7 separate regions of the Homo sapiens genome follow, and all the other regions are linked to region 1. The links come from fine-mapping of genetic effects on gene expression. A gene starts in region 1. Each other region holds a variant in brackets. All regions are shown on one strand. Distances are from middle to middle.

Region 1 (4,212 bases):
TGGTGAAATGCTGTCTCTACTAAAAATAGAAAAATTAGCAGGGCATGGTGGTGGCCGCCTGCAATCCCAGCTACTCAGGAGGCTGAGGCAGGAGAATGGCTTGAACCCGGGGAGTGGAGGCTGCAGTGAGACAAGATCTTGCCACTTCACTCCAGCCTGATTGAAAGATGAAACTCCATCCCAGGAAAAAAAAAAAAAAGAATAAGTTAGGTAAAGAGAAGAAAATAAAGTGCAAAAGTAAGTGCTTCTTTTATGTGTTCAGCACAGCCTTTATTCTGTGAGGTCAATGTCTCTCTTACAGAGGAAAGAAGTGAAACATTTAGCCTGAATCCTGAGAACCAGGAACTTCTCAAACATCTTAGTTTGCCCTCTCCCAGTGTAAATGAATTGCACACTTTCTGAAGTCACTTTTGTATTTCTCCATTGCAGACCACTTTGTACCTACCTGTTTAATCAACATCTTCCCCTCTTGAGTCTTGGTAGGGTCTGGATCTTTCAGCTCTGTTGGATGCTCATGAAGTGTAACCAAAGTTTCCCTTCCTTTTTTTTTTTTTTTTTTTTTTGAGACAGGGTCTTGCTCTGATACCCAAGCTGGAGTGTAGTGGTGCGATCTCAGCTCACTGCAACCTCCACCTCCCTGGCTCATGTGAGTCTCCTGCCTCAGCCTCCTGAGTAGCCGGGATTACAGGCGCCCACCACCACACTCGACTAATTTTTGTATTTTTAGTAGAGATGAGGTTATACCACATTGCCCAGGCTGTTCTTGAACTCCTGGCCTCAGGTGATCTGCCAGCCTCGGCCTCCCAAAATGCTGGGATTACAGGTGTGAGCCACCGCGCACGGCCAGTATTTGTTCAAATGATTTCTCTCCACTTAGGGGAGAGAGAAAAATAGGGCTGGACTACCTGCACTTGGCAAGGGCAGAGTGGCAGAGTAGACTTGCCTACCAGCGAAGCCAGACAGCCTTTGGTTCCAATCTTAGTACTACCACTTTTCAGCTGAGGAACCCCAGCAAATTGTGAGGCCCCCGAGCCTCAGTTTTCTTATCTGTAGAATGGGGATAATGATGCTCTCCTCATAGGATTGCTTAGCGCTGGGTAGGTCCTTAAGGAATGTCCATTGCACTCCCATCCCTCTACAGCTTCCCCCAGATTCTGTCCTCTTAGGAGGCATGGGTGTCACTGGAACATGAGGAAGAATTCCCTGGATCCTTTTTTCCCTTTCCTCACACAGAAGCCAAACCTCAAATACACATCTTCCCTCTCTGTCCACACCCACAGCAGCAAAGAGGAGAGCCAGGGATCTGGGGGTGGGGGTGGGGGCCCATCTTCCTCCTCTCAGTGGGTGGGGGCTCGCAGGCTGACTGGCAGAGGACCTTCACTGGAGTCAAAATAAACTGCCTTCCTGGGGAGGGGATAGAGGGCGAGAGAAGCCGCAGGTATTGTTTTGTGGGGGAGGGGGGTCCTCTTCCTATTCCATTTCACTGAATTCTTCCCACCCGGCATGGCCCTGGGAGGTGACCATAGCCCTGGCTCCCCGAGTAAACACCCAGGTCAAGCTACAGGACTGACTGGGTCTTAAGCTATTATACTCCCAGTGAAAAGATTTTTTTAGCCCGAGGACTATCTCGAACTCGTTCTATCTCAGTGAATGACTCACTGGAAACGGTGTAAACACAGGTGTATTACTGGCCTGCGGAAGACTTGGATGTCCCAGCATGGTAGAAGGCCAGGTCCCTGCAGTGCAACGCTTGCATTCTACATCCAGAAAACTAAAGTTCAAAGAGGTTAAGCAATTTGCCAGAATCCTGCAGTCCAGGGACTGAGCGGAACCTGGAATCCGCCACCGGGACTTCCAGCCCTGCTCCCTCCGGCGCCACCCTCTTCCCAGAGGTAGGGAGAGCTGAGGCTCGCTGTGCTCACGTGGCTTTCAGAGCCCGCCTCGGACCCTGACCTGTATTCCACTCCCGACCCCACACTTCCTCGTTTCCCCTTCCTTCTCCCTCTCTTCCCAGGGTCCCGCAGGGCCGGCTGGATGAAGTGATGCCGGGCACCTATACACGCATGATGGCAAAAGGAGGATTGCAACGCCAGAGCTCGCCCCTCCAGAGCTGTGCAGGGTCCCCACCGAGGAGGGGGTGCAAACGGGTGCTGGGCTCGGGGGTCAGCCCGCGCCAAGTCTGGGGCTGGGGGCGGAGCCTGCCGGTCCGGGGCGGGAGGGTGGGCAAGAGAGGGAGTCCCGGGGCCTGGAGACTTTGGAGGAGTCGGGGCCCTGGGGGTAGGAGACCGCCGGGTGGGAGCGGCAGGCGCAAGCCGGGCGGCGGGGCGCGCGGGCCAGGCGGGGCCGGGCGGCGGCAGGGACTGCGGAGGTGCGGCGTGAGCTGGGGCGGGCGGCGTCACCGGAGGCGGAGGGGGCGGAGCCGCGCTCACAGCTGCCACCCGGCCGCCGGGCCCAGGCAGAAGCCACCCGCCCGCGGCCGGGCACGCACCGCGCGCAGACCTTCTGCGAACAATGCTCCGGCCGGGCGGCTGGCGGCTCGGAGACCGACGGAGGGGCCGGGGGAGCGCAGCCCAGAGGTGAGCCCGCGACGCGCTCTCCAAATTCGGCCTCTTTTTGTCTGGCGAGCGTGGTCGCAGAGGGGAGCTTTGGAGGGGCGCTGCGATCGCCGAGCGGGCTACCCCCGGGGTGACAGGCGACCGCTCGGGAAGTGGGCAGTGCCGGGGCCGCGTGAGCCCCGGGTGGTGCCCGAGGTGCAGGGAGGCGCCCGGCCGGGAGGACCGAGGAGCTGGAGGGTGTTTTTGATTCATTCGAGAATCGCGCTCTTTAAAACGGGGAAACTTTCCTACGAGTTCCAGGAGGGAGGACCGACTGTTAGGATGGTTTCTCTGGTCTTGCTGCTCTGTCTGCGGCCGGAGGCTGAAGCGCTTTGAGGACTGCTTTCCACCGCTAGAGTATTGTCAAGGGGGAGAGACGGAAGGCCGCCTGGCTGCTGGGACCAGGACCCGGGGGGATGGTTTGGGGGTGCAGGGTATGCAGCAGCGGGGCTCCAGAGGCAACGAGATGATGCCCTTTTCCCCGAGCCCTGGCTGAGCCCTCTGAAACGCATGCTGTGAGCACGTTATTAACCTTTGCTGGTATCCGGGGACACACACACTTAGAACATAGAATCCTCTGCTGGGCATGGAGGCGGCCGGGCATTCGCAGCGGAGAGCGCCAGCTCACGGTGTGTGCGTTTCTCTCAGGTAAGCTCTCCCTGCACATGGTTTTGCAGAGCCGATAGCAAAGCCCAATGGTCTAGGGGCGAGGAGTTTTGGCGATGCATTCAGTGCGGAGTCAGGCTCAGAAGGCTTTCCTGATCACTGGCCTGAACTATTCTTAACAACTCCTCTCCCCTTCCCTTTCTGAGAAGAAAATTTGACAGAAAGCCCTAGGGAATTCCGCAGTTATTTTTCTCTCCTGAGGTCTGGTTGGTTTCGACTGTAGTGGGTGCAAAACCACATTCCTCCCTCTGAGATTTTCTTTCCTCCAGCACTGGAGGAAGAAAAAAGAAAAGGAAAAGTTGGGTGAATATCGTAATTTACCCTCTGCGTGAGTAGGGAGGCAGGGGGCTAGTGGGTGGTAAAGTTGTCACTTTCTCCTTTCTGCCTGGTCAGCCCTGGCCAGTGGAGTGTGCTGAAGTTCAGACACTTTCCACACATATTTCTTTCCTTTTACTGGCGTTGCATTAATTTAACTGTAACATACAGAAAAAAATTTTAGGTGAATGTTTTCTGCAATTCTGTCACTTCAGAATAAGGCATAAGCAACTTCTGATGTAAGTCTGAGGGGGTATTTTGGGCCAAAATATTTAATCTTAAAGATCTGGCCACCTTGATTCTTCAGATTCTTTTTTGAAATGGGGTGGGAGTGTATCTGACAGCTTCAGTCTTGCAAACTGTAGCCACAAATCTAGTGCAGAAGTTTGCAGAGGCAAAGACATTTTTTTCATGACTTGGATCAGAAAGAATGCTGAGCTCTTTTTTCTAATCTGACACTGCAGCCTCCTACTGAAATGGGGAGGATTTGCATAATTCTGGGGGCTGCCTCCCCTCAGAAGTAAGGAATGTGGGCTGCGAAGTGCCTTCCCCATGCTGTGGAGAGCTGGCACTGCTGCACCAGGCAAGGCGAGGCAAGGCTTTGTGGGTGCCACTTGTGTTTCTCACCATCTTTTAC
Region 2 (4,263 bases), 130 kb after region 1:
GAGGAACCACAATCACAAGCCTCTTGTAGCCATAAGAACCTACATGGGGGAAATTGGCTTATTTACAAATTTTTAGGTATGGTTGGTGGTAGGCAAACATGTTCACCAGCAATTCCTTCTACCACTGGTTGCATGCGCCGTTTCTTCCATTAAGAAATGAAGTCTATTTCCTTTCCCCTTGAACCTGGCCAGATCTTTTAACTTGCTTTACTTGCTTTGATTTCTCCCCCTAAAAGAATATAACAGAAACGACACTCTTGAACCTCCGAGCCCAGGACTTAAGATTGACAGTTTCTTCTTTCTCCCTCTTGGAAGCCAGCTGCCATGTACATAGTCCAACTACTCTGAGGTCAATATGCTACAAAGAAGCTCAGGCTACCAAAGGAAAGATCAAATAGAGGAGAACCAAGGAACCCCAGCTATGCCCCCAGCTCATCAGCCAACTAAATGCAGTTGCTACAATGATCCCAGGCAAGACCATCAGGAAAACTTAACTGGTTAACTTATGAAATCAAGAGATATAATATATTGCTTTACTTTTAAGCCACTAAGTTTTTTGGTTGTTTCCTTTGCAGAGCCTAATTAGATCATAAAAGTAGAGGAGCTTTTGTAATAACAGATGTGTGAGCCAAAAAAATATATAAACAGATTCCTCCACAAGATTCCATGGAAACCACAGTGAGTGGCAGGATGGCAATAATCCACACATGAAGAAACAAAGGCAAAAAGAAAAATTTTCTATAAGAACCTCTGCAAATAGAAGGGCTACATTGTCACTGGAGGAACAAGAACAATGACCACTGATAAAGTCCGTTGGGAGAAGATTCCTACATGGGGTAGAAAGTTTGCATAGATCAGTGGTTTTCAAACTATTTAGCAATGGAACCCCGATTGCAAAATTAATAAAATTATATTTTATTAGTAAATTATTTTTAAGTTTAAAGCCTTCCTTTTACTTCCTATAAAAGCCACTGATATGGTTTGGCTGTGTCCCCACCCAAATCTTAACTTGAGTTGTATCTCCCAGAATTCCCATGTGTGTGGGAGGGACCCAGGGGGAGGTAATTGAATCATGGGGGTTGGTCTTTCCTGTGCTATTCTTGAGATAGTGAATAAGTCTTACGAGATCTGATGGGTTTATCAGGGGTTTCTGCTTTTGCTTCTTCCTCATTTTTCTCTTGCCACCACCGTGTAAGAAGTGCCTTTCTCCTCCTGCCATGATTCTGGGGACCCCCAGCCATGTAGAATTATAAGTCCAATTAAGCATCTTTTTCTTCCCAGTCTCAGGTGTGTCTTTGTCAGCAGTGTGAAAATGGACTGATATAGCCACTATCCATGAGATCAGTAAATGCATTTCAGTGCAAACAAACCAAGTTTAATGGCAGCTGTATTCTTTTTTTTTTTTTTTTGAAATGCATCCTAGGTCTGTCACCCAGGCTGGAGTGCAGTGGCACGATCTTGGCAACCCCCGCCTCCCGAGTTCAAGTGATTCTCCTGCTTCAGCCTCCCGAGTAACTGGTATTACAGGCACATGCCTCCATGCTTGGCTAACTTTTGTCTTTTTAGTAGAGACAGAGTTTCGCTGTGTTGGCCAGGCTGGTCTTGAACTCCTGACTTCAAGTAATCCACCTGCCTCGGCCTTCCAAAGTGCTGGGATTACAGGCATGAGCCACCACACCTGGCCTATAGCAGCTATATTCTTATTCCTACTATCCGTTTCATGTCCGTATGTTGTTTTGGATGTACTGAATAGAGGAAATTCACATTCATCCAGAAGTAGGCTAAGGGGAACTGCAGTTCAAGGGCATGTCCCTCAAGCAAAGCAAAACGCCCAAGACATGACGGGTGCCCAGTGAATACTTCCTCAATGTGCAAAAGAGAAGTAGGTTGCAGGAAGGGAGTTCCTGATCAGGTGCCTGTTTCCAGAAGTGGCCACTTGTGTGGCAGCTGGCAGTGATGAAGAGCCCTTTGGCTGGAACTGGTCCCAATCTCAGCCCCTTCACTTGCTGCTTAGTTCTGGAGCCACTTAAGAGAATCTGTGCCGCCTTTATCCACTCAAGGCATAGAGAGCTCTCAGCCTCTCTCCCTTCCTTTTTTGCCAGGGAGGATGCCCTCTCTGATACAGGCACAAGATCAGCACTGTCTCCTTCCGTAATCAGCCTGTTTCTTTTTCATTCCTCTGCCCACTTTAATACAACCAATACAGCTGTTTTGTTACCTTTGCCATTTTATTCCCAAAGTTGCAGCTTATATTGGGTGAACCTTCCCAAAGGAGATAATTTCATTAATGTCCATTTCATTCATTTTAAATTCATTCATTTAAAATTCAATTTCATTAATTTCCATTATGGAAGCTTAGGTGATGAACAAAAATCAATGGACTTACTTTATAGCCTCATGGGTTAGTAGTCTCTGAAGGGTGATTTTGTTTGATTAAGCTCAGCTGATGATATGAATTCCAAGCAGCAAATGATCACTGAGTACCTGTTTTGTGGAAGGAAGGCATTGGTGTACACAC[G/A]TGGAGGCTGTGGACTTCATATGTTGTACTTGGTTTCAGCCTTTACTGAAACAAGTGCGGACACTAAATGGCAATGGGGTCCGTTTAGCTGACTGGATATTAGCTGCTCAGGCTATTTTTACAAGGACCGTTCTAGCCACATCACCACATGTAGTGCCCTGTGACGCAAAATGACTCCATTGATGGAAATGCTTTTCTCCTCTTCCTCTGCCTTTTGCCAAGGCTAAGGGAGCTGAAGGAGACGTTAGGTAAAGGGACCGAAGAAAATGTAACAGACAGCAGCTCTAAACAGACTGGCCTCTAGGAGACTTGCTAAGAGGAGGTCCTTCTGGGCTGAGTCAAAGCTCCCATTATTTTGGAGGTTTTCTGGAATCTTCTGCTTTGTCTGTCATTCTCCCCTCCCTCAGGGTCCATAGCAGTGTACACATTACCTTTTCAAAAGCCACTTATCACTTTGCATGGCCACTGTGAATGTACATGTCTCTCACACATATTGTGAACTCCTCGAGGGAAGGAACTCTGCCCTGGACGTGTTTGTAACCCCTGTCCCTAGCTTGGTAGATACAACAGGCCTTGCTTAAATAGTATTTTAACAAAGAGCCCTGTGTCCTGTACAGTTCTAAGACAAAGAAGAAAGCAGTTACAGTCTTGTGGAAAAGGTGGGAAAATGTGGGAAGATGGTAAAATCTGTTCCCTGATTCTTCTGGTGCCTGCTGGTACCTTCTCTGGGCTGACAAACAACTGCCATCTCTGGTAAGGAAGGGTTGCTGTCCTGCTGCCAGGCACACAGATGCTGAGGCATACTGCTGCCCTGAGCTTTCCGTCTTTCTAACTTAATAATCCTCAACATTTTGGAGAGAAAGCTTTTGATTTCCTTCAAGGTGTACAGGGAAATTTTACCAAGATAGATCATATTCTGGGCCATCAATTACGTTTCAATGAATATGAAAAGATTAAAATCCTACAAAGCGTGGTCTCTGATCACAATGGAAATAAAGTAGATATAAATAAAAGATATTTAGAAAATCCCCAAGCATTTGGAAACCAAGTAATACAATTAAAATATCCCAAAAAGATATAGTAAATAGTTGAAAAAGAAAATTTATGAGATGCAGTTAAAACAATGTTTAAGGGAAATTAAGCACCAAACACCTATATTAGAAATGGAGAAACATCTTACTCAATATCTTCAGCCTCCATTTGAAGAAAGAAGTAAAAGAAGAGCAAAGTAAACCCAAAGTAAGCAGAAGAAAGGCAATAATGAAGAATATAAATCAATGAGATAGAAAACAATAAAACAATGAGGAAAAATCAATAAAACCAAAAGCTGTTTTGTTAAGGAGAAAAATTAAAATGAGAACCTGTAGCCAGTCTTATTAGGAAATAAGAGAAAAGACACAAATTACTAATGTCAAGAATAAGAGAGGTAACATCACTATGGATTCTATACATCCTAAAGGGATAATAAAAGAATGTTCTGGCTGGGTGTGGTGGCTCATGCCTGTAATGCCAGCACTTTGGGATTCTGAGGTGGGTGAATCACTTGAGCTCAGGAATTCAAGACCAGCCTGGCCAATATGGTGAAATCCTGTCTCTAATGAAAATACAAAAATTAGCTGGGCATGGTGTTGCATGCCTGTGGTCCCAGCTACTCAGGAGACTGAGGTGGGAGAATCACTTGAACCCAGGAGGTGGAGGTTGCAGTGAGCCGAGATCATGCCACTGCCCTCCAGCCTGGGAGACAG
Region 3 (4,263 bases), 58 kb after region 1:
ATCACTGCCATCTAGATCTTCCCTCTTCTGGCTCGCTATTTCTTCTGCGCCCTTCATTCTGACTATTGAGGGGGAAATTCGTGGGCATGTAAAAGTGACTGGTCCAGACTGCACCACCACTGCTTGATTTATTATTAACTTGAGCCCTCCTGGAAGGGGTATAAATCACTCACTCAGCCTTGCTGCCAGGGGCCCCGCCTATCATTAGCAAATGGGAAGGGCAACTCCCTATGATCTTGATAAACCACAGGGAAACAAGGATTGCTTACTACAGATGGGAAAGTGGGCAAGGAGAGCTTAAGAAACACGGTGCTCCCTCTTGAATTTCATTTTCACTTGTGACAGTCTCACTCTATAGCCCAGGTGGGAGTGCGGTGGCACAGTCTCGGCTCACTGCAATTTCTGACTCCTAGGTTCAAGTGATCCTCTCCCCTCAGCCTCCTGAGTAGCTGGGATTATAGGCATGCACCACCACGCCCAGCTAATTTTTGTATCTTTTGTAGAGTTGGGGGTTCGCCATTTTGCCCAGGCTGGTCTTGAACTCCTGAGCTCAAGTGATCCTCCCGCCTTGGCCTCCCAAAGTGCTGAGATTACAGGCATAAGCCACCGTGCCCAGCCCCTGTTGAGTCTTATGATAGATGATAGAGCCAAGGAGGATATTGGTGCAAGGACCCCATAGTCTTGCTCAGCTCCCCAGGGCTTTTCTTTGCATGAATCCATTGGTTCTCAGCTCCTGTGTTCAACAGGTTGCATGCACTGAGTTTGTCCTCCCGTCAGCGTTGCATTCAAGGTTGTGCCCTGCTGTCGCTCACTAATGCTGCCTCGGTCACTGAGGCTGGGGCATGAATGTCAGCCCATGGCCATCCATCTTGCTCCCTAGAGAGACCCTCCTCCCTGTGGAGCAGCAGAAATAAAGAGACCCAGTCTTGATCTATGTGGCTTGCAACTGGTGTTTGAGCCTCAGGGATCTATTCTGTTCCCTCTTGGGTTGGAGAAAGCAGAGAAGGGCTCAGTGTGAGCTAGAAGGTTATTAACTGTTCAGGAGCAGCCCTAGAAATGTCCTGTGCACCTGAGTGAGGTGACACAAGACTCATAATTTGCTTCCTTTGGGGCCTTCTACCCCTTGTCTTCTCCTATGCTTTTGTTCTGCTTTTTTTTGTTGTTTTCTGGTCCTACTGCCAAGGTGTGGAAAGGCATAGAGACACTCCATGCTCTTCCCTTAGGGTGATGTGGCATGGAGAACTCAATGAGGGGCACACATCCTAAGTACACATTTCCTTAGGGCTGCAACCCATTATTATTATTATTATTAGATGAAGTTTCACTCTGCCACCCAGGCTGAGTGTAGTGGCGCAATCTTGGCTCACTACAACCTCCATCTCCCGGGCTCAAGCGATTCTCCTGCCTCAGACTCCTTAGTCGCTGGGATTATAGGCACGCACCACCACCCCCAGCTAATTTTTGTATTTTTAGTAGATACGGGATTTCACCATGTTGGCCAGGCTGGTCTCAAACTCCTGAGCTCAAGTGATCCGTCCACCTCAGCCTCCCAAAGTGCTGGGATTACAAGCATGAGCCGCCGCACCCAGCCAAAAGGGAGAATTTTACCATTGGCCAGTTACACCCTCTATAAACCTGACTTTTAAAAAATTCCACGGAAACCACACATGTTCGAGTTTGTTATTGCTGTTGCAGCATTGTTTGCAAAATATTGGAAACAATTTAAGTGTCCATCAAAAAGGGATGGTTAAATTATGATACTTGCATATGGTGATATATTATGGTGAGACTGTTTAAAATAATTAAATAGATCTGCATATTTGATTTAAAAATCTCTCCAAGATGTGAAAGAAAAGCATTATTCCAAACAGTAGCCACCG[T/A]TTGCTCTTTTCTATGTAATTTGTGTGTGTGTGTGTGTGTGTGTGCGCACGCGTGCAGGCACGCATTTGTTTGGATTGTTGGAGGGATGCATGAAACACTACTGACAGTGGTTTCCTCTGATGAGAGAGCTGAGTATGAGGGACAGGGTAGGAGGAAGACTTAGTTGTCAATCTATACCTTTTCTGCATTTTGATTTTTTCCATTGTGCATATATTGTCTATTAGAGAAATAGAAAAGAAGTAACATAAAATTAATTGCTCTGACCAAATAAATAAATAAATAAAGGGAAACAAGTCTGCAGGACCCTGGAATTGAGTGGCACTGGCCTTGGTCTTATGGTTTCTGTCTCTCCTCTTCAGGTCCCTCGTCTGAGCTGGCTCACTCGCCCACCAACAGCGGGAAGAAGCTCTTTGCTCCCGTTCCGTTTCCTTCAGGCTCCACTGAGGACGTGTCCCCCAGTGGCCCCCAGCAGCCCCCTCCACTCCCCCAGAAAAAGATAGTGAGCCGGGCAGCCTCTTCACCGGATGGCTTCTTCTGGACCCAAGGCTCCCCCAAGCCCGGAACAGCAAGCCCCAAGCTGAACCTAAGCCACTCGGAAACCAACGTCCACGACGAATCTCACTTTAGCTATTCGTTGAGCCCCGGGAACCGCCACCATCCTGTCTTCTCCTCTTCCGATCCTCTGGAGAAAGCTTTCAAAGGCAGTGGCCACTGGCTTCCGGCAGCAGGGCTGGCGGGCAACAGAGGCGGCTGCGGGAGCCCTGGCCTCCAGTGCAAAGGGGCCCCCTCCGCCTCATCCTCCCAGCTGAGCGTGTCCAGTCAAGCCTCCACCGGGAGCACCCAGCTTCAGCTGCACGGTCTCCTGAGCAACATCAGCAGCAAGGAGGGCACCTATGCCAAGCTGGGGGGACTCTACACCCAGTCCCTGGCCCGCCTTGTAGCCAAATGTGAGGACCTCTTCATGGGCGGCCAGAAAAAGGAGCTCCACTTCAATGAGAATAACTGGTCGCTCTTCAAGCTGACTTGTAACAAGCCCTGCTGTGACTCGGGGGATGCCATTTATTACTGTGCCACCTGCTCTGAGGACCCCGGCAGCACCTATGCTGTGAAAGTAGGTACCACTCCCTCCTTGCATTCTGCTGTGCCACTGGCTGGTGCTGGCTTGGGCAGAACTGTGGCCTGAGCAAGTCATTTCACCTGTCTGGGCATTAGGAGGGGAGTTGATTCCTAAGCATTCTTTTTTTTCTTGTAAGATAAGAGTCTCACTTTGTTGCCCAGGCTGGAGTGCAGTGGCACAATCTTGGCTCACTACAGCCTCCGCCTCCCATTTTAAAGCGATTCTCCTGCCTCATCCTCCTGAGTAGCTGGGATTATCTGTGTGCACCACGGTACCCAGCTAATTTTTGTATTTTTAGTAGAAATGGGGTTTTGCCATATTGGCCCGGCTGGTCTTGAACTCCTGACCTCAGATGATCCACCCACCTCGGCCTCCCAAAATGCTGGGATTACAGGTGTGAGCCACCACCCCTGACCCCTAAGCATTCTTTTAACACTTAGTGCTCAGCAGCTTCACTCTCTCTCTGCCCCAGGACATGGTGCAATGAGATTTGTAGTATGAATATAAGACACATTCTGTGCTTTAGCTGAGTTAAGAAAACAGTTGCCTTTTAGTGCAACGGAGAGTTTATTCATTTATTGACCAGGTTTTTATTGAGTGTCTACTATAGGCCAGGTACTTTGCCACAATCTGAGTATGTAGGTGTGAATATAAGCTTCCTTATAGAGCTATGATGTAGTGAGGGAGATGGATAATGAGGTCATTCTTCTAATGTTAGATCCAGAAGGAGCATTCGACCTAGGAATCATCTTGAACAATAATAGTAATAATATCATTTGTGTGAGCATTCACTCTACAACTAGACTCTTACCTCTAATCCTAACAGTAATCCTACAGGTTAGGTAGGTTTTACAGATGGAGGATCTGAGGCTCAAAGTGGTTAAGTAATTTGCCCATAGCTAGTTGGTGGCTGGAATGGATTTGAGCTCTTCTGTGTCTGTCTCCAAAGCCTAAGTTATGTCCCTACCATTTAAGATAAATGAAGTTCAGAGACATTAAGTGACTAGCTCAAGGCAGCACAGCTCTTTAACCTTTGATGCTGGATCAGGCCTCTTGCTACCCACACTGTATTGCACTGTCAGAGTGCAGCTCTGTGTGAGCTAGTTGAGCCATCTGCACCCATTTGGGCCACTGGAGTCTCTACCATGAACTCCAGTCCTTCCTGTGGCCCTATTTGTCATCTTCTTTTGCTGTTCCTTGATTACCTATTGAGACCCTGGCCCTTCTATAAATGTGGGCTTTTATTGGGAGTCAGGAGGGAGACC
Region 4 (4,263 bases), 44 kb after region 1:
AAGCATGCAGTGAAGTTCAGATAATAATTTAACTGACCTGCAGGTGTTCCCTAAGATTTTTCAAATATTAACATTTTGCCATTTGCTTTAGATTTTTTAAAAATAAAATGTTACTGCTACTGTGGAAGATCCCTCCCTATCCAATTCCCATTTCAACCTCCCATTGCTACCCAGAGCAATCACTGTCTTGAAGTTGATGAGTATCATTTACATTTTATTATGTGCTCCGTAAAACATGTATATATCCTTATATGTTTTTAATCTCTATACAAATGGCATCACATTTTACTTGAGCCTTTTGTAAATTACTTTTAATACTCAGCATTTTAAAATATTTCTTCATATTGCTACCCTAAAATCCAGTTCATTTTTTTCTACTGCTATAAAGTATCCCACCAAAAGACTATACCACAATGTTTTCATTCCTTTGTGGAAGCACCGTTCAACAGTTTAGAAGGTTATTTGCTATTTGTAACGTTGTGAACACCTTTCTCCACTTATAAGAGTTTCTCCAGCTCTGTACTGCACAGTATGGTAGCCACTAGCTTAAAATGTGGTTAGTCAGAATTGCAATGTGAGTAAATATAAAATGCATGCCACATTTTAAGGACTTAGGATGAAAAAAACATATGGAATATATCATTAATAATTGATATAGGTTATACTGATTACTGCTTAAAGTGACAATATTTTGAATACATTATGTTAAATAAAATGTATTACTATAATTATTTTTTCCCATTTATTTTACATTTTTTAAATGTGGTTACCAGAAAACTTAAAATTACATATATGGCTTGCATTATAATTCTATTGGACAAGGCTGGTCAAGACCAGCCAGTAACTGATTGCCCACATGCAAGACATCTGTTTTTGTAAATAAAGCTTTATTAGAAAACATGCCACTAATTTCTATGGTGGCTTTCCAGCTACAACAGCAGAGTTCTGTAGTTGCAACAGAACCCTTATGGTCCACGAGCCTAAAATATTTACCATCTGGCCCTTTAAGGAAAAGTTTGTTGACTCATATTCTAGAGCAGTAATTTTTAACCTTTTTTAAAAACCATGACCCACAATAAGAAACATTAATATCATGACCCAACAAACACACATCTGAAACAAAAGTTTTACAAAACAAAGTTTCACAAATCCTTTCTATGTATTTTCATATTTTCTGTTCTGTTCTGTTTTGTTAAAATAAACTGCTGGTCAGTAAACTGCTAGTGACCCACTCAAGTGACTTAGCCATTCATTCATTACTAGTTATTTAAGTAACATTGCTCAAGGACATATACCCAAAAATGGAGTGACTGGATTATAGGAATGTGTGTATTTAACTTTACAAGATTCATCACATTGTTGTCCTGTGTGTGAGTTTACCAATCTACAGTCTCACAAACAGTGTGAGAGAGTTCCTATTTCCCTATATCTTTAACAAAATCTGACGTTGTCAGTCTGATCTGATGGGTATGAAATGAAATCTTGTTTTATTTACAATCTGATCATTCATAATTTTAATAATCTTTTCATGTGTTGAGTGGCCTTTCTTGTTTCATTTGTGAGTTGCCTGTTCATTTCCATTTTAAAAATGGGGTCATTTGTCTGTTTCTTAGATTTATAGGCACTCTTTTTTATTCTGCCTACCAGTACTTTATTAGTAATGCGGGTTGCAAAGATGTGAGTTGGCCACTCCAAGGTTTGTTTTTTTTCACTTTTTAATGGTGACTTTTATGTTATGAGGCAGAAGTTTTAAATTTTAAAGTAGTCAGATTTATCTTTTTCTTTATATTGCTATTTTTTAGCCCTTATTTTAAAAATTATTTCCTACCCCAAGTTCATAAAGTTTTCTCGTTATTTTTTCTGATGAATTTAAAATTTAATGGGTGTTTCTTTTCTGTTGAAAATTCGTGTTTCTACACGGTATGAGATATGGCTCTACTTTCTTTTTTTCTTCACATCATAAATAGCTGGTGTAAGTACCATGAATTGACTTGTTAATCCTCCAGTCTGTTTCTTGGGTCTGTGTCCTGGAAATGTTGGTCCTAGATTTATCAGAACCAGATCTTTACTGATCTCATTTATACAGCAACTGGTCCTTGATGGTTTTACAGGGTAGTTTTCGCAATCTTTCAGAGAACACATAATGTTTCTCTTATAAAAATTACCTGAGATAAGGCCGGGCGCGGTGGCTCACTCCTGTAATCCCAGTACTTTGGGAGGCCGAGGCGGGCAGATCACGAGGTCAGGGGGTCGAGACCATCCTGGCTAACACGGTGAAACCCCGTCTCTACTAAAAATACAAAAAAATTAGCGGGGCGTGGTGGTGGGCGCCTCCTGTAGTCCCAGCTACTCGGGAGGCTGAGGCAGGAGAATGGCGTGAACCCGGGAGGCGTAGCTTGCATGAGCCAAGATGGTGCCACTGCACTCCAGCCTGGGCAACAGAGCAAGACTCCATCTCAAAAAAAAAAAAAAAATTACATGAGATAATTGAAAAAGTGAAAGTTACTCAATTCATTTTATA[A/G]TTCCTTTTCTTTTTTTTGAGACACAGTTTCACTCTGTCACCCAGGCTGGAGTGCAATGGCACCATCTCGGCTCACTGCAACCTCCGCCTCCTTGGTTCAAGCGATTCTACTGCCTCAGTCTCCCAAGTAGCTGGGATTACAGGCGCAGGCCACTATGCCTGGCTAATTTTTGTATGATTAGTAGAGATGGGGTTGGCCTGTTGGCCAGGCCGGTCTCGAACTCCCTACCTCAAGTGATCTGCCCGCCTTGACCTCCCAAAGTGCTGGGATTACAGGAGGGAGCCACCGTATCCGGCCGTCATTTTATAATTCTATTTTAACCTTTATATCCAAATTGGACAAGGACAGGACAAGAAAGAAAAATTATGGGCTAGCCTCTATTTGAATGTAAATGTAAAAATCTTAAACTAAATATGAGTAAAACTGAATCCAGCAATGTGTAGTAAAATAAGTTCATACAACATGTGCAAGGATGGCTTAATTAAGAAAAGCTATTAACATAACTCATCACATTCACAGAGTAAAGGAGAAACATGATATGATTTTTTTCCCATAGATGTAGAAAAGGCATTTAATAAACCCTAATAGCCAAAAATGATTTTGAAATACAAAACCTTAGAAAACTTGAAATAGAAATAAACATCCTTAGCCTGATAAAGTGCGTCTACTGAAATCTGTAGTAAATATACGCTTAGTATTGAAGGATCCCTTGTACTGCCTGTGTGTGGAGTTCCCTCTTTGTATCTGGCACCTGAGAATTGTTCTTTCTTTTAATCTTGGCTGTTACTTTAAGTAAGTATGTGTGTGTGTGTGCATATGTATATGAATATATATATATGCTCATACATACACATGTTTATGTATTTTTTGGTTTTGTCTATTTACATACATTTCATGAAGTTTGTGGAGTGGGAAGCTGTGCCAGCTCTGTAGCCATGGTGCTGTAGTTTCTCCCTTAGTGATTTTCTGGGCCTGAAGACCAAGAAACTCTAGAAACCACTTTGGAAGGGGCAAAGTAGGGGATAGCCACAGAGCTGGCTCTGGCTTCTCTCCTAGACTGAGGAGTTGTTATGCATGACTTCATATCCTGGCTTCCCTTGGAGAAAACTATTAGTGATAGATCTGATGTGGATATAAGAATATTGTATGAAACTGTCTGATTTTATTTTGCCAGGAGATTAGGCAAGGATCAGCTACTGCCATAGCATTTCCTAAGGAATTGATATTTCCAAGGTTCCCACAGCGATACTGAGATACAAAGATGAAGATTAGTCATAATGTTGCCTTCACTGTCACATTTTTTTTTTTGACAGATTTAACACAGTTTAAAAGTACGATTCTAAGGGTTGGGAGTGGGGAGAGGGACGTGTTTTCAAGGAGCACTTTTTGTGGTAGCGAACAAACTTTAAACCCTCCTGTTGATACACAGGGGATTCCCGTGACTATGAAAATTAAAACAGGGCCTGGCAATGTTGAACACAAAGAACAGCCAATAAATTCTTGACCGTAAGGTCATGCGCATTAAATAAGGCAGTTCTGATGCCAAATCAGTACTGTACTGTATATTTCCCATAGCAGATATTGAGATATGGATCTGCCGTAGAAGGAACAGGAATGTCATCAGGAAATATCAGTTCAGACAAATGTGGGTTTCCACCAGCAGGGGAAGAGCTGGACCTGGTGTGGATCTGTCTCCCTTCATGGTGAGAATGTCAGATCAGAAATGAATATTCATGTGGCC
Region 5 (4,263 bases), 170 kb before region 1:
TTAAGAGCTCTCCCAACATTGTGACCTCTGAGATTTGCTGTAGTCCTCACTGCAGAAAGAATACGCATTTGTGAAAATCTGTCTCATTGCTTTGGAACTGTGCTCACAGTTCTTCTGTGCTTGTTTGCATGTCTGTTTGTTTAATCTGAAATGGCATGTCAGTGTTTTTCAAAATTCCTCACTCTTTTGGCATCAGTTAAGATTCTTGATTGCAAGCTACAGAAATCAAGTCTGGTTAACTTAATATGAAAAGGACTCTCATGGCAGTTTCTTTGAGATCTCACACTATCAGCTCTGTGAAGTGAGAACCTGGAATAACACACAAGGCATGTTATAAAGGAGCTCACTCCATTTGCGACATTTGTCCATCGCCAGCTGGTAGGTTTCCACTCCCCTTCCCTGCTTGCCCCACACCTGGGCAACCAAGTTAAGAAGACCGTGGATGTTCTGTGCCCCTGTCAATGTCCAGGAACCTCAGATAGTACCCCGTCTAGCCCATGTGCCAGCCCCAGCCCAACTTCATCCCCTAGCCATAATAAAAGCCCAAAGCCGCCCCTAAACCACCTTAGTTGCCTTCCAACATAAGCTGTTCCCTCCTAGAACTCACCAGCTTGTGAGTCCTAAATATAATTTATTCAACTTCGTTGGTGAGAGTGTTGTGTTATCTCTCATGACACATAGAAAACCCCTGGGTTAAGCCACAGAATTCCAGCTGAACGTGGGCTGCTGCCCCTGCCTGACTCTTGATGCTGCCACAACTTCTGGGAATAATTTGCAAACTGACCCTGGGTCTTTGTGACATACCCCGAAGATTCCAAGTTCTGGATGGGAGAATTGCCATGCTTGAGCCTAGGCACGTGCCATCATCCCTGGTTGCCAGGGCAGGAGGACGATCTCCTCTTCTGCTTCCCTAGTTATGAGCACAGCAGCTTTAGAAGTATCTGGGGGAAAAACAGTGAGACAAAATAACCTTCAAACACAATACTCAAAGATGGAAATTCTGTCATTGAAAGACTTACTAATTCTTTGTGAATAAAAAATATGCACCTCTTGTAGTCTTCAGATACTTAGAAAGCTTTTTAAAAAATTGAGATAAAATTCACATAACATAAAATCTACCATTTTAACCATTTTAAAGTGTACAAATCAGTTATCTTTATTCACAATGGGGTGCAGCCACTACTAATATCCAATTCCAGGACATTTTCATCACTTCAAAAAGGTATATTTTACCCCTAAGCAGTCAGTCCCCATTCCTCCTCCTCCCTTCCCCTGGCAATCACTAATCTGCTTTCTCTCATTGTGGATTTTCCTGTTCTGGACATTTCATATACATGGACTCAGATACTTTGAGGTCTTTTCTGACTGGTTTCTTTCACTTAGCACAATATATTCAAGGTTCATTCATATTGTAGTGTGTATATCAGCACTTCATTTTTATTGCTAAAAATATTCCATTTTACGTTTACACCACATTTTGTTTATCTTTTCTGATTTTATTTTTATTTTCTTTTTTATTTTTTGAGACAGGGTCTCACTCTGTCATCCAGGCTGGAGTGCAGTGGCACAATCTTGGTTCATTGCAACTTCTGCCTCCTGGGTTCAAGTCATTCTCCTGCCTCAGCCTCCCGAGTAGCTGGGACTACAGGCACACACTACCATGCCTGGCCAATTTTTGTACAGAAGGCTAATTTAATACAGAAGGAGTTTCGCAATGTTGGCCTGGCTGGTCTCAAACTCGTGATCTCAAGTAATCTGCCTGCCTTGGCCTCCCAAAGTGCTGGGATTACAGGCGTGAGCCACTGCGCCCAGGGCCTTATTTATCTTTTGAACATTTGGGTTGTGTCAAATTTTTTTTTTTTTTTTTGAAACAGAGTCTCGCTCTGTCCCCCAGGTTGGAGTGCAGTGGCATGAACTCGGCTCACTGCAAGCTCTACCTCCCAGGTTCACGCCATTCTCCTGCCTCAGCCTCCCGAGTAGCTGGGACTACAGGCACCCGCCACCACGCCCAGCTAATTTTTTTGTATTTTTAGTAGAGACAGGGTTTCACCGTGTTAGCCAGGATGGTTTCAATCTCCTGACCTCATGATGCGCCCACCTCGGCTTCCCAAAGTGCTGGGATTACAGGTGTGAGCCACCTCGCCCGGCTGGTTGTTTCAACTTTTTGGCTGTTTTGCATAATGCTCTTATAAACATTTATGTACAAGTTTCTGTGTGAATATCTGTTATCAATTCTCTTGTGTATATTCCTAGGTGGAGTGGAATTGCTTGGTCTTAACTGTAACTTCATGTTTAACTTTTTGAGGAACTACCG[GA/A]ACTACTGTTTGACATTTCTGCCAACAATGTATGAGGGAGTCACTTTCTCCACATCCTCACTAACACTTGTTATTCTCATTATTATTATTTTTATAGCTCTCTTAGTGGATATGAAGTGGTATCTCATTATGGTTTTGATGTGTACTTCCCTAATGACTAGTGGTGCTGAGCATTTATTTCATGTATTTATTGACCATTTGTGTATCTTCCTTGGAGAAATTACTATTCAAATTCTTTGCCCATTTTAAAATTTTATTATCTGTCTTTTTGTTGTTGAGTTGTAATAGTTCTTTATGCAGTCTGAGTATCCCTTATCTGAAATGCTTGGCACCAGGAGTGTTTCAGATTTCAAATTTTTATCAGATTTTTGGAATAATTGCATATACATAATGAGATGTCTTGGGGATGGGACACAAGTCTAAACACAAAATTTATTTATGTTTCATATACACCTTATATACATAGCCTGAAGGTAATTTATACAATATTTTAAAATAATTTTGTGCATGAAACAAAGTTTGTCTACACTGACCCATTCGAATGCAAAGGTGTCACTATCTCATATCAGTACTCAAAGCTTTGAATTTTGGAGAATTTCGGATTTTGAAATTTTAGATTAGTAATGTTCCAAATGAATCTTCTGGATACAAGTGTCTTAGCAGATATATGCTTTGCAAGTATTTTCTTCCATTTTCTGGGTTATCTTTTTATATTCTTTTTTTTTTTTTTTTTTTTGAGACAAAGTCTCACTCTGTCACCCAGGCTGGAGTGCAGTGATGCAATCTTGGCTCACTGCAACCTCTGCCTCCTGGGTTCAAGCAATTCTCCTGCCTCAGCCTCCTGAGTAGCTGGGACTACAGGCACGTGCCACCACGCCCAGCTAATTTTTATATTTTTAGTAGAGACAGGGTTTCACCATGTTGGCCAGGCTGGTTTCAAACTCCTGACCTCAGGTGATCTGCCCACCTCAGGTGTCCTTTGAAGCAGAGTTTTTAATTGTGATAAAAGGTCTCATTTATCTATTGTTTCTTTTGCATTTGTGGTTTTTGGTGTCACATCTAAGAAATCATTGCCTAATCCAAGGCCATGAAGACTTACCCCTATGTTTTCTTCTAGGAGAGTTATAGTCTTTGCTCCTCCATTTATGTGTTTGATTCATTTTGAGTTCATTTTTGTAGATGGTGTGAGTTAGGGATCCAACTTGATTCTATTGCTTGTGGTTATCTAATTGTCTCAGCACCATTTGTTGAAATGACTATCCTTTCCCCATTGAATGGTCTTGGTGGCACTCTTGTCAAAAATCAATTGAACACAGATGTATGATTTTATTTCTGGGCTCTCAGTTCCATTCCATTGATCTGTATGTCTATCCTTATGTCAATACCACACTGTTTTGATTATTATAGCTTCTTGATTGTTTTCATATTTGGGGGAGAAACTAAAAAAGGAACTTTTTACACTAGGGAGATTGAACTGCAAGAATTGTAAGAATACAGATGCTAAGAATACACACACAATGCTACCTATCTGATTGAGGGTAAAAATAAGGAGGTGAAAACCCTGTTTGCGTCTGAAGAAACACATAATCTGCTCTATTTAGAATAATTTTATGTTGCTGAAGAGAATACTTTGTGTTAAAATACTTTATTACAAAGAAATTTCCATTAAAAATAAAATCTTGTACTTTTTTTGAAAATTTCGTTCAAAATCTCATGACTCAAGCACAATTATTCTAATTTCTCCATGGCTTCCTTCTAGTCTTTAGTTACATTTTACATATTTTTATGCATTTTAATCATATTATATGTAGACTTTTCCTTCTTTTTAAACTTAGCATTGCTATAAACAATTTTATGCTCATATGGTTTTCATATATTAATAGGTACTTAAAATCATATTAATTTACATATCACAAGTTACTTAGCCAATTTATTATTTTATATTGTT
Region 6 (4,263 bases), 250 kb before region 1:
AGTAGCAACGAGGTTTCACCGTGATGGCCAGGCTGGTCTCAAACTCCTGACCTCAGGTGATCCACGTGCCTTGATCTCCCAAAGTGCTGGGATTACAGGCATGAGCCACCGCACCCAGCCCTAATTTTTGTACTTTTAGTAAAGACGGGGTTTTGCCATATTGGCCAGGATGGTCTTGAACTCCTGACCTCTAGTGATCATCCCACCTCAGCCTCCCAAAGTGCTGAGATTACAGGCATGAGCCACCGTGCCCAGCCCCTTCTTCTCACTTTCTCCACTTTACTCAGCACCCACAATGCCTCTCCTGCCCGCTTTCTATGACTAATTTTCCCCCTCAAGACTTCACCTGTGTTGTCTGGGGAGGAGTAGGAGGTGATACTAGAATAGGAAGTGTCATCTGCGTCATGTGTACCCCCTGGCCCCCTTACTTGGAGTTGGTTGTCCTCTGTACACCGATAAGAGACTCTGAAGGAGTGACCAATGTCAGAGTGGTACTGTGAGGCAGTCAGACTGCCGCTCCCATCCTCCCAGGAAGATGTGAGGGAAGGAACCTGAACACAGATGTTTGTGCATTTGTCTGGGAGTTAGGAGGATGAAGGCTGGAGGCAGAGTGTGTAGGAGGAGGGAGGAGAAGAAGGGAAGTGAGAAGCTGTGACTGACTTTGAAAGAACTGGGTTGTTGGACCTCATACATTCTCAAGGGCTGGGAAAGCAGACGTGAATGTCCTCGAATTTAGCTAATAGAGAACATCGATTTCCTTTATGCAGCTCAGCCAAATGCATTTAACTTCTACTTAAATATTGCCAGCAAGTATTTTTCAGTTCTTACAATAAAATCCTCTTTTTAGGTCACCTTTCAAATTTCCTGGCTGTCCCTTAGAGGGGCTGCATTCAGAGATAATGTCTTAATTCAGCAAGACATCTGACTTAATTACACTGCTAATATGCATTTCTTCCTTCCTCTTTTAGAGAAATAGAGAGGAAGACAAACCCTCATTTTCTAGAACTATTTTCTTGTCCTGTGTTTTAGCACTACTGTATATATATGATGCCCTCTCTGAAAGCTTGCCTCTAGGTTTACCTGTCCACCAACCATTTAGCCAGGCCCAATGTCAATAGCAGAAAAGCAGTGGATTAATAACAAGAGAAACAACAAGAGCAAGAAGAAAGCGTATTCTTCTTTGTTAGTTCTCCTGGCTGCACTACATCATAATTATGGTTTCATACAGCCTCTGTGTTTTAAAAATTGTGACTTTAGGTGACAGTACAGAAAGCCAGTGATGCTTTCACTCTCATATGCCTCAATGGTAAGATGTATACAGAGTGTGTGAACTGAAAATGGTCAGGAACTAAAGAATATTTTATGATCTAAACTAGTCGTCATTGTTACAGTGCATCTAACAAGAGAACATCTTCAACAGCCCTCCTCCTCCGTGGAAGCTGTCTAGGAAACACATCTCAACAATTCAAGAAATTCTCATACCATGGGTGTTCCTGGCTTCCTGCTATTTTCTCACTCCTGCTCCCCTCAGCCTTCACCCCCACCCTAATGAATATTCAGTCTGCATCCTTCAACCAGGATTTTGAATAGGATGCTTCCTGTTTTTCCTATTAAAGATTAACTGTTGTCCTGGGTAAGAGACTGTTTAGTGAAAGCTGGCAGCTGGGAATTCCTGTTTATTTTTTATTATGACCCTGGTTCTGGGGACAACATATATCTCAAAGTTACAAATAAGGCCTTGTATATTCCGATGGCTCTGTTAGTCCTGACTCTGTATTGCATTCTTTTTTTAAAAATCTACATGCCTGTCCCATCTCACTGTGAGCAATTCAAAGGCAGGAATTAAGTCTTATTAATTTCTCTCTTCCGTTGCCCAGCATAGTGACCAGAACAGAGCTCAATAAAATGTGTTGAATAGATAAATGGGCTGTTAAGAGAAAAACTTTAGCAGAATTAAATTTAAAGGAGTTTAATTGAGCAATGAATGATTCACGGATCAGGCAGCCCCCAGAATTACTGCAGATTCAGAGAGGCTCCAGGGGTACCTCATGGTCAGAACAAAAAAAGGGAAGTGACGTACAGAAATCAGAGGTGAGGTGCAGAAACAG[G/C]TGGATTGGTTACAGCTTGGCATTTGTGTTATTTGAACACAGTCTGAACACTCAGCACTGTATGAATGGTTGAAGTGTGGCTGCTGAGATTGGCTGAGACTCAGCTATTGTTACAGGCTGTAATCCTAAATTAGGGTTTCAATCTTGTCTGCACACTAAGGTAGGTTGCAGTTCGTCCACAAGGACTCAAATACAGAAGTATGGAGTCCTTCCCAGGCCATATTTAGTTTGCTTTAACAAGGCATAGCAGTGATAAGTTCCAGAGAGAGGTGGTCAGCATGATTCATCACTGTCCTCAGACAAGAAGAGGATGAGGAGGGATGAGAGCCATTTGTGCCTATTTTGTACCTTTTTGGCAAAGTCATGATTACTTAGTCATGTAACATGTAACTTAGCATGACCCATTGGGTACAGAAACTAGGTTTAATTTTTTTATCCAACAGTGAAGTTTTCCATACTTCACTCAAGTACTTAGTAATTGCTGTAGCTTTGCTTCATTGCAGCGGCTTCATAGATCATGGCTGTTGTTCATCGCTTGTGGCGTGCCTGGGAAATCAATAGCTAAAAATGTTTTGTGAACCCTTAGTAGTTGTTACCTGGGTAGGTTTGGAATGTTCCAGGAGAATTAATGAACAATCAGGTGATAGTTTTGTCATTTTACAGGGAATAATAAGCAAATGCGTGTTTGGAAGTGTGATTCTATCAAATCTGTTTATAAATAAGTGCATATTTGCCATTTAAAGTAATTTTTTTATCTGTGACTTGGGCTTCATGGGATTAGCTATAATGACACGTCTGGGAGTCTCCTCACAATTAGAATGAAATCCTCGAGTTTTTTTCCTAAAAACCTTATGGATGGTGTTTTGCATTTGTCATCTGCAAGAAAACATGTAAACACCCTGGTATTTCTTTAGTATTCGTTTTTAAGGGCTGCAAATGGGTTTTACAAACATGATTTCATGAATCCTTAAATAAAGCCTGGGAAACAGTAGATACACTTAACATTTAGCAAAACTCTTCAATAGCTTCTTGCCACCATAGGCATAAATTCCTCCACAGCTCGCCCTTTCTCAGACACTAACCTCCAGTTACACCAAACGATTGCAGGTTTCACCTCATGTGCACTCTCTTGCCTTCAGCCTTTTGTGTATACACTTCTTTCCCCCAGACCCTCCCTCCCCAACTCCTAATCCTCCTTCAAGATGAGAAACTTGAATATCACCTCCTCAGCACAGCTTCCTGATTTCTACACCCAGTTAGGTCCCTTGCTAGTTGCTTCCTCACAGAGGGAATTACACAGAGAAATTAAGGTCCACAATGCAAACATTTCCAGAGTAATCATCACTTTTTAAGTTATTTTCAATGTCAATAGAAAATATTTGAGTTCTGGGCTGTCCTCTTTGTGATAATCCATGTCCTTTTATTTATGTATTTGAATTGATGTTCTGTCCAAAGTTGCTGCCAAAATTACATTTTGGAGGAGCCAGGAAGAGCTTGTCAAACATCTTGATGTGTGGTTTGTATGGTTTCATTTGGTCTGACGATCTTATCTATCCAGAGAAAAAGCAAGTCACACCTCTATCTTTGCCTTCTTTCTCTGGATAGTTTAATATATTATTAATAGTTTGACCATAATTCACATTCCATTTTTAGGAGCATCGGAAGATTATATGACATTTCTGATTTTATTAGAACATTCTTTCATTTAATATTGCTTAAAAAAAACAGCCAGTATGTGGAGGCTGAGAAGCCTTTGGTTATATAAGCTGCTTTATGATGGTTTTATTTTAGTTGTATAACATATTTGTGTTTCTTAATGATATTCAGGACAGCAGAAGGGTCAAGAGAGCAGATTTTGAAGGAAGCCATGCCACGTTCGTTACATAAAGTACTATATCTGAGGCTCAGTTGTCTCATTTATATACTGGAAATGACAATAATATCTATCTCATAGGATTACTATAGGGGTTAAATGTAATAATGAGTTATTACATTAATAAAATGTAATAAAATGTAATATGTAATAAAGAGTTTGATATACAGCTCAAGGTTAGTACTCAGTCAGTGCTAGCTATTTTATTACTCTCTCTCTCTCTCTCTATATATATATATATACACTAACGATGAAGTGGCGTTATTGGGGTAATAATCTGGA
Region 7 (4,263 bases), 76 kb before region 1:
GGGTGACAGAGCGAGACTCCATCTCAAAAAATATATATATATTATATATAATTTATATATATTATATATAATATAATAATATTATATATAATATATAATAAAATTGATTATGTACATTTCATGTTTTAAATAAAAAGCAAATTGTGAAAGAGCTTTGCCTCTGAAGTCAGATTGTCTAGATTAGTAACTGGTTCTCTTCACTGGCTCCCTGCAAAAAGCCTTGGAAAATCTACTTAAACTCTGTGCACCTCTATCTAGTTCCCCTTCTGTTTAGGTGGGATAGTAAGAATACCGCCTTATAGAAGAATTGTTAGGATTAAATGAGATCATTCATGTAAAGCACATAGCTTGGAACCTGATAGGCAGTATATGCTCAGGACTACCTGCTGTTGTTCTCACTGATGTTTTTCCTACCCCAGAGATCTGATTTAATTGGTCCAGGGTGCAGCCTGGATATAAGGAGTTTTCAACTCAACGCAGGTGATTTTAAGGTACAGCAAAGGTGGAATACCAGTGGCCTGCAGCCTAGAGGAAGCTTCCATGCAGAAGTGGGTGAGGATATGTAATTACTGCCACAAAATAGCTGATTCCAGATGTTTCCTTGTCGGTCATTCCACTTCAGCCCTACACTACCCCGATGATAAGGAAATGGAGTGTTAACACCACCGTACTCCTCATTTTATGAGTTACCCATCTGAAAAAGTTGACTGTAAGCAGTTATCTAAATTGAACCCCATGTACTCTCTTAATTAGGTTTGATTTCAGAGATAAATTCCCACAGGAGAATGCTGACCCTAAGAGATACCAAAACTCAGGCTTAAGAATGTAGCAAAAAAATTTAAGAATGTACAATTTAACAAGAGACAATGATATGAAAACTATGAATAAGCTCTACATTTGTGTTGGGTTCAGCTATTGGCATCTTGAAAGCCCATAGTTTGAACCAATATCAAAAGCTTGGGCGGGGGGGGGGAAACCAATGTATTTCATCTTTAGACATTTTACAGATCCGCCTCCAAATTTCCAGGTTTAAAAATGGCAGTACTCCAACACAAGTCAAGTTAGCCTGTGCAAAAGTGGGAATTAATAGGCTCTGGTAGCTGGGAAGGCCGCTGTTGAAACCAGCAGAATAAAGGAAAGAACAGCTGGGACCAGCACCCGGAATGCCAGGATTGCAACTGATTGTAGTCACTAGGTTTCAGGGGCCATTCAGTGTTTCAGCTGAGCGTTTCAGGTTTCAGCTACACGGTGATGAAAATTATGACATCAACAACAAACAGAAAAATAAATATATAGTGTGCAAAAATTACAAAAAAAATAGCCGTGTCAGAAGACAGAGAATTGTGTGAGTGGAGGGGAGGGGTGTGGTGGGGTAGGGAAGGCCCTACTACTAAGGTGACATTGAATAAAGGCCTGCAGGGCTTAGGGGGTGAGCCCTGCCATCTTCCAGGCAGATAGAATAGCCAATACAAAGACGTGAAGCTGGGAACGTGCATGTTCTGTTCAAGGAACAGTGGGGAGGACCGTGAGCAGAGGTGGACAGCAGGTTGCAGGGAGTGGCAAACTACCGTAAGGCATTGGCTTTTACTGTGAGTGAGATGGGAATCATTTGGAGAGTTTGAGCAGAGGAGCGACAGAATGTAAGGACTGTTTCAAAGCTCTCTAGCCAAGCAGACAACAACCAAATGACCTCTTTGCTATATGGAAACTAGCCTATGCGGAAGCAAAGCAGAGAGCAGGGAGACCAGATAGAACACCACTGTTGTTTTCTAGGAGAGACCTTCTGCCCTCTGGACTTAAGATTGTCAAAGTGGGCCTGGTGAGATGTCATTACATCATCAGAATTTGGTTCTCTTTCAAAGGTGGAGATGAAAGACCTCGCTGATGGGTTTCACATGGGGTTGGGGAGAGCGAGGAGTTGTGGTCGACTCCACACTCCCAGGACTCTCCCTGTCATGCAGCTTCATGCCCGCCTGCATTTATCTTTCATCCCTGCCACCTGTCTGTCGGCCTCATTCCAAGTCTCCCCATGTCAGGTAATAACACGGTGCCCAAGAGCCCCAAATTCACAGCCTCCTATGGAGCAACCATGGATATTTACTTTATATTTATCGGACCTTGGCAAGACCCAGTTTGACCCTTGGGTCAATCACTAACGTCAGGACAGAATGATTGGTCACACCTGAATACATACCTACCCCTGTGGCCAGGGAAGCAGGCAG[C/G]CTTCTGGAACTGGTGAATTAGGAGAGGCTTTCTTGGCGAGCAAAACAAACAAACAAAAAAAAACAAAGTTAGCGTAGTCTCACCACCAACTACAACCCAAGTTGTTTTTCCTTTGAGTTCAGTCCTCTTCCCTTGGATCCTGAAGATTCTACCCCAAACCCAGAGCAGCTTCCAATATGGGGAACTCACTCACCTCAAAAAGAATATTGCTCTTTCAGTATAGAACAATAAGAGATCAAATTCAAAGCCATAGTAATTCTGAATCTGGCTTCAGGGCTCAGGTTAGCCTGTCACTCAAAAGCAACTGGAACTGGGAAAGAGGAAGAGGGAGAAGGTTTTTCCCTAACTGCAGGAAAGCTCTTCCATCCCACACCAGCTTAATTGTTGAAAGAGAGCCGCCTTTAAACGCTTTAGACAAAATCTGGATGGAGAGGCACTTCCAACGAGTTCTTTCATCCTGAGATGTTTTAGGGCAAGACACACCTGCATTTTTTATCCTACCCAGGGCTTACTGAGCTCTTTGTCAGTTGAGGATTCTTGGCCTTAAACCAGCTCCACCACTAGCATTTGTGTGCTTTGGAAAAAACCTCTCTGCTGAAGAATTGAGAAAGTAGTCCATGGTCTCAAAGTAATGACACACTGTGGCGATACAGGATCTTGAAATGTGTGGGTAAGATGTGGCAGGGGCCTCGTGTGCTGTGACGTTGGCTGCCCGGCCACATTAACCCTCAGTGACTTCCCTGAGCCCAGGGTCTCATTGCCCATCCCACTGCAACTGCTATCTTCATCCTTCCTTTTAGAACACCTGCTCCCACAGTCCCTGAGAAAGAACTGTTCTATGTTGACAGTTCACCCCAACCCCAAACCACCTTGGGCTGTTTACAGTAAATACTGCACACTAGTGAGGTCTTATTGATCTCTTTCTTCCCAGACACCTTCCCAGCCCCTCCCTCCCTGCTCTCATTTCTGTGTCTGCCACCTGGAAGCAGCAAATGCGGCTCGGCTTGCTTTTCTGCATACCAGAGGCAATGATAATATTTACCGTGGCAGTTGGAGGACTTTGCTGCAGTCTTCACAGCTCTGGCACTCAGGTTGCAGTGAGATCCAGGGAGAGCCAGAAGTGAGGCGCCCAGAGAAGTGTTCACTTGTGGCTCGAAGTCCAGGTGTGATACTGCATGAAAACCCCCCGATTTGGCCATCCAGAGCATGGTAATCAAGAAACGCCTAGATGTTTCCAAAAATGGATTGGGTGTCCCTCCAAGTGTTCATGAAAAGGTTGAATTTCCTCTTGGTGGGGAGTTACAGAGGAGATTAGCAGATCAGGCTGAATTAGGTAAGTTGTCTCCAAAACAGATTCACATATCCCAAAAGGAACAAAGCTAATCCATTAAGGCACAGGAGAAAATATTATCATTTTATTTATTTTTCTTTTTAAATATAATTTTTGTATATGTCTTAAAGTATGTTGGTACAGAAGTATGTCATTTATAAATGAATAAATATACATCAATTGAGGTTACATACTCAAATTATTTTTATTGCTTAGGACAACTGAGCCAAACCATTTGAAGCCCATTAAATTAGGAGATGCCTAGGCTCTTTTCTCACACCGAAACTGGGGTGTTCTGTAGTTTTATGTTCTGGGACAAATTCTGCCATGATAGACCTGAGAAGGGGAGAGAGGAGGAAACTGACAATTGAGGCAACTGGTCTCGGCTGGGCGCAGTGGCTCACACCTGTTCACACCTGTAATCCCAGCACTTTGGGAGGCCAAGGTGGGCAGATCACTTGAGATCAGGAGTTTGAGACCAGCCTGGCCAACATGGTGAAACCCTGTCTGTACTAAAAATACAAAAATTAGCTTGGCATGGTGGTCAGCACCTGTAGTCCCAGCTACTCAGGAGGCTGAGGCAAGAGAATTGCTTGAACCCTGGTGGCAGAGGTTGCAATGAGCTAAGATTGTACCACTGCACTCCAGCCTGGGTGACAGAGGGAGACTCTGTCTCAAAAAAAAAAAAAAAAAAAAAAGGGCAACTGATC

Direction of the effects. Alleles are on the strand shown, and positions count from the first base shown. SD is a standard deviation of normalised expression in the study named. Not every link is listed here.
For the expression in monocytes after R848 of the gene that starts at base 2,458 in region 1, allele G in region 2 goes with a higher level than allele A (moderate effect, 0.67 SD a copy in Quach 2016).
For the expression in fibroblasts of the gene that starts at base 2,458 in region 1, allele A in region 5 goes with a lower level than allele GA (small effect, 0.11 SD a copy in GTEx).
For the expression in tibial nerve of the gene that starts at base 2,458 in region 1, C is the high allele of the variant in region 6 and G is the other (small effect, 0.37 SD a copy in GTEx).
For the expression in thyroid of the gene that starts at base 2,458 in region 1, C is the high allele of the variant in region 7 and G is the other (moderate effect, 0.63 SD a copy in GTEx).

What was found.
Region 2: its variant is fine-mapped to the expression of PRAG1 in monocytes after R848 (Quach 2016, PIP 0.95).
Region 3: its variant is fine-mapped to the expression of PRAG1 in whole blood (INTERVAL, PIP 0.93).
Region 4: its variant is fine-mapped to the expression of PRAG1 in monocytes (TOPMed, PIP above 0.99).
Region 5: its variant is fine-mapped to the expression of PRAG1 in fibroblasts (GTEx, PIP 0.96).
Region 6: its variant is fine-mapped to the expression of PRAG1 in tibial nerve (GTEx, PIP above 0.99). The same link has a PIP of 0.9 or more in subcutaneous fat.
Region 7: its variant is fine-mapped to the expression of PRAG1 in thyroid (GTEx, PIP above 0.99).

The regions. Positions count from the first base shown.
Region 1 is chr8:8,384,685-8,388,896 of GRCh38, reverse strand. It overlaps PRAG1 (PEAK1 related, kinase-activating pseudokinase 1), which reads left to right and starts at 2,458. Exons shown (of 6, transcript NM_001080826.3): 1 at 2,458-2,576. RefSeq lists a silencer at 2,076-2,755.
Region 2 is chr8:8,258,542-8,262,804 of GRCh38, reverse strand. No RefSeq gene overlaps it. Among named protein-coding and RNA genes, the nearest start is that of FAM85B, 33 kb to the right of the region's middle. The variant G/A (reference allele first, on the strand shown) is at 2,519.
Region 3 is chr8:8,326,439-8,330,701 of GRCh38, reverse strand. PRAG1 (PEAK1 related, kinase-activating pseudokinase 1) reads left to right here. Exons shown (of 6, transcript NM_001080826.3): 5 at 2,241-2,992. Among named protein-coding and RNA genes, the nearest start is that of PRAG1, 58 kb to the left of the region's middle. The variant T/A (reference allele first, on the strand shown) is at 1,881.
Region 4 is chr8:8,340,407-8,344,669 of GRCh38, reverse strand. All of the region lies in intron 3 of PRAG1 (PEAK1 related, kinase-activating pseudokinase 1), which reads left to right. Among named protein-coding and RNA genes, the nearest start is that of PRAG1, 44 kb to the left of the region's middle. The variant A/G (reference allele first, on the strand shown) is at 2,522.
Region 5 is chr8:8,557,879-8,562,141 of GRCh38, reverse strand. LOC105379224 (a long non-coding RNA gene) reads right to left here and starts at 781. Exons shown (of 3, transcript NR_188124.1): 1 at 608-781. The variant GA/A (reference allele first, on the strand shown) is at 2,315.
Region 6 is chr8:8,637,752-8,642,014 of GRCh38, reverse strand. No RefSeq gene overlaps it. Among named protein-coding and RNA genes, the nearest start is that of CLDN23, 62 kb to the left of the region's middle. RefSeq lists an enhancer at 1-10 and a silencer at 1,987-2,036. The variant G/C (reference allele first, on the strand shown) is at 2,109.
Region 7 is chr8:8,460,413-8,464,675 of GRCh38, reverse strand. LINC02950 (long intergenic non-protein coding RNA 2950) reads left to right here and starts at 3,289. Exons shown (of 3, transcript NR_186598.1): 1 at 3,289-3,556. LOC107986913 (a long non-coding RNA gene) reads right to left here and starts at 4,251. Exons shown (of 4, transcript XR_001745796.2): 1 at 3,266-4,251; 2 at 2,195-2,254. RefSeq lists an enhancer at 3,123-3,417. The variant C/G (reference allele first, on the strand shown) is at 2,223.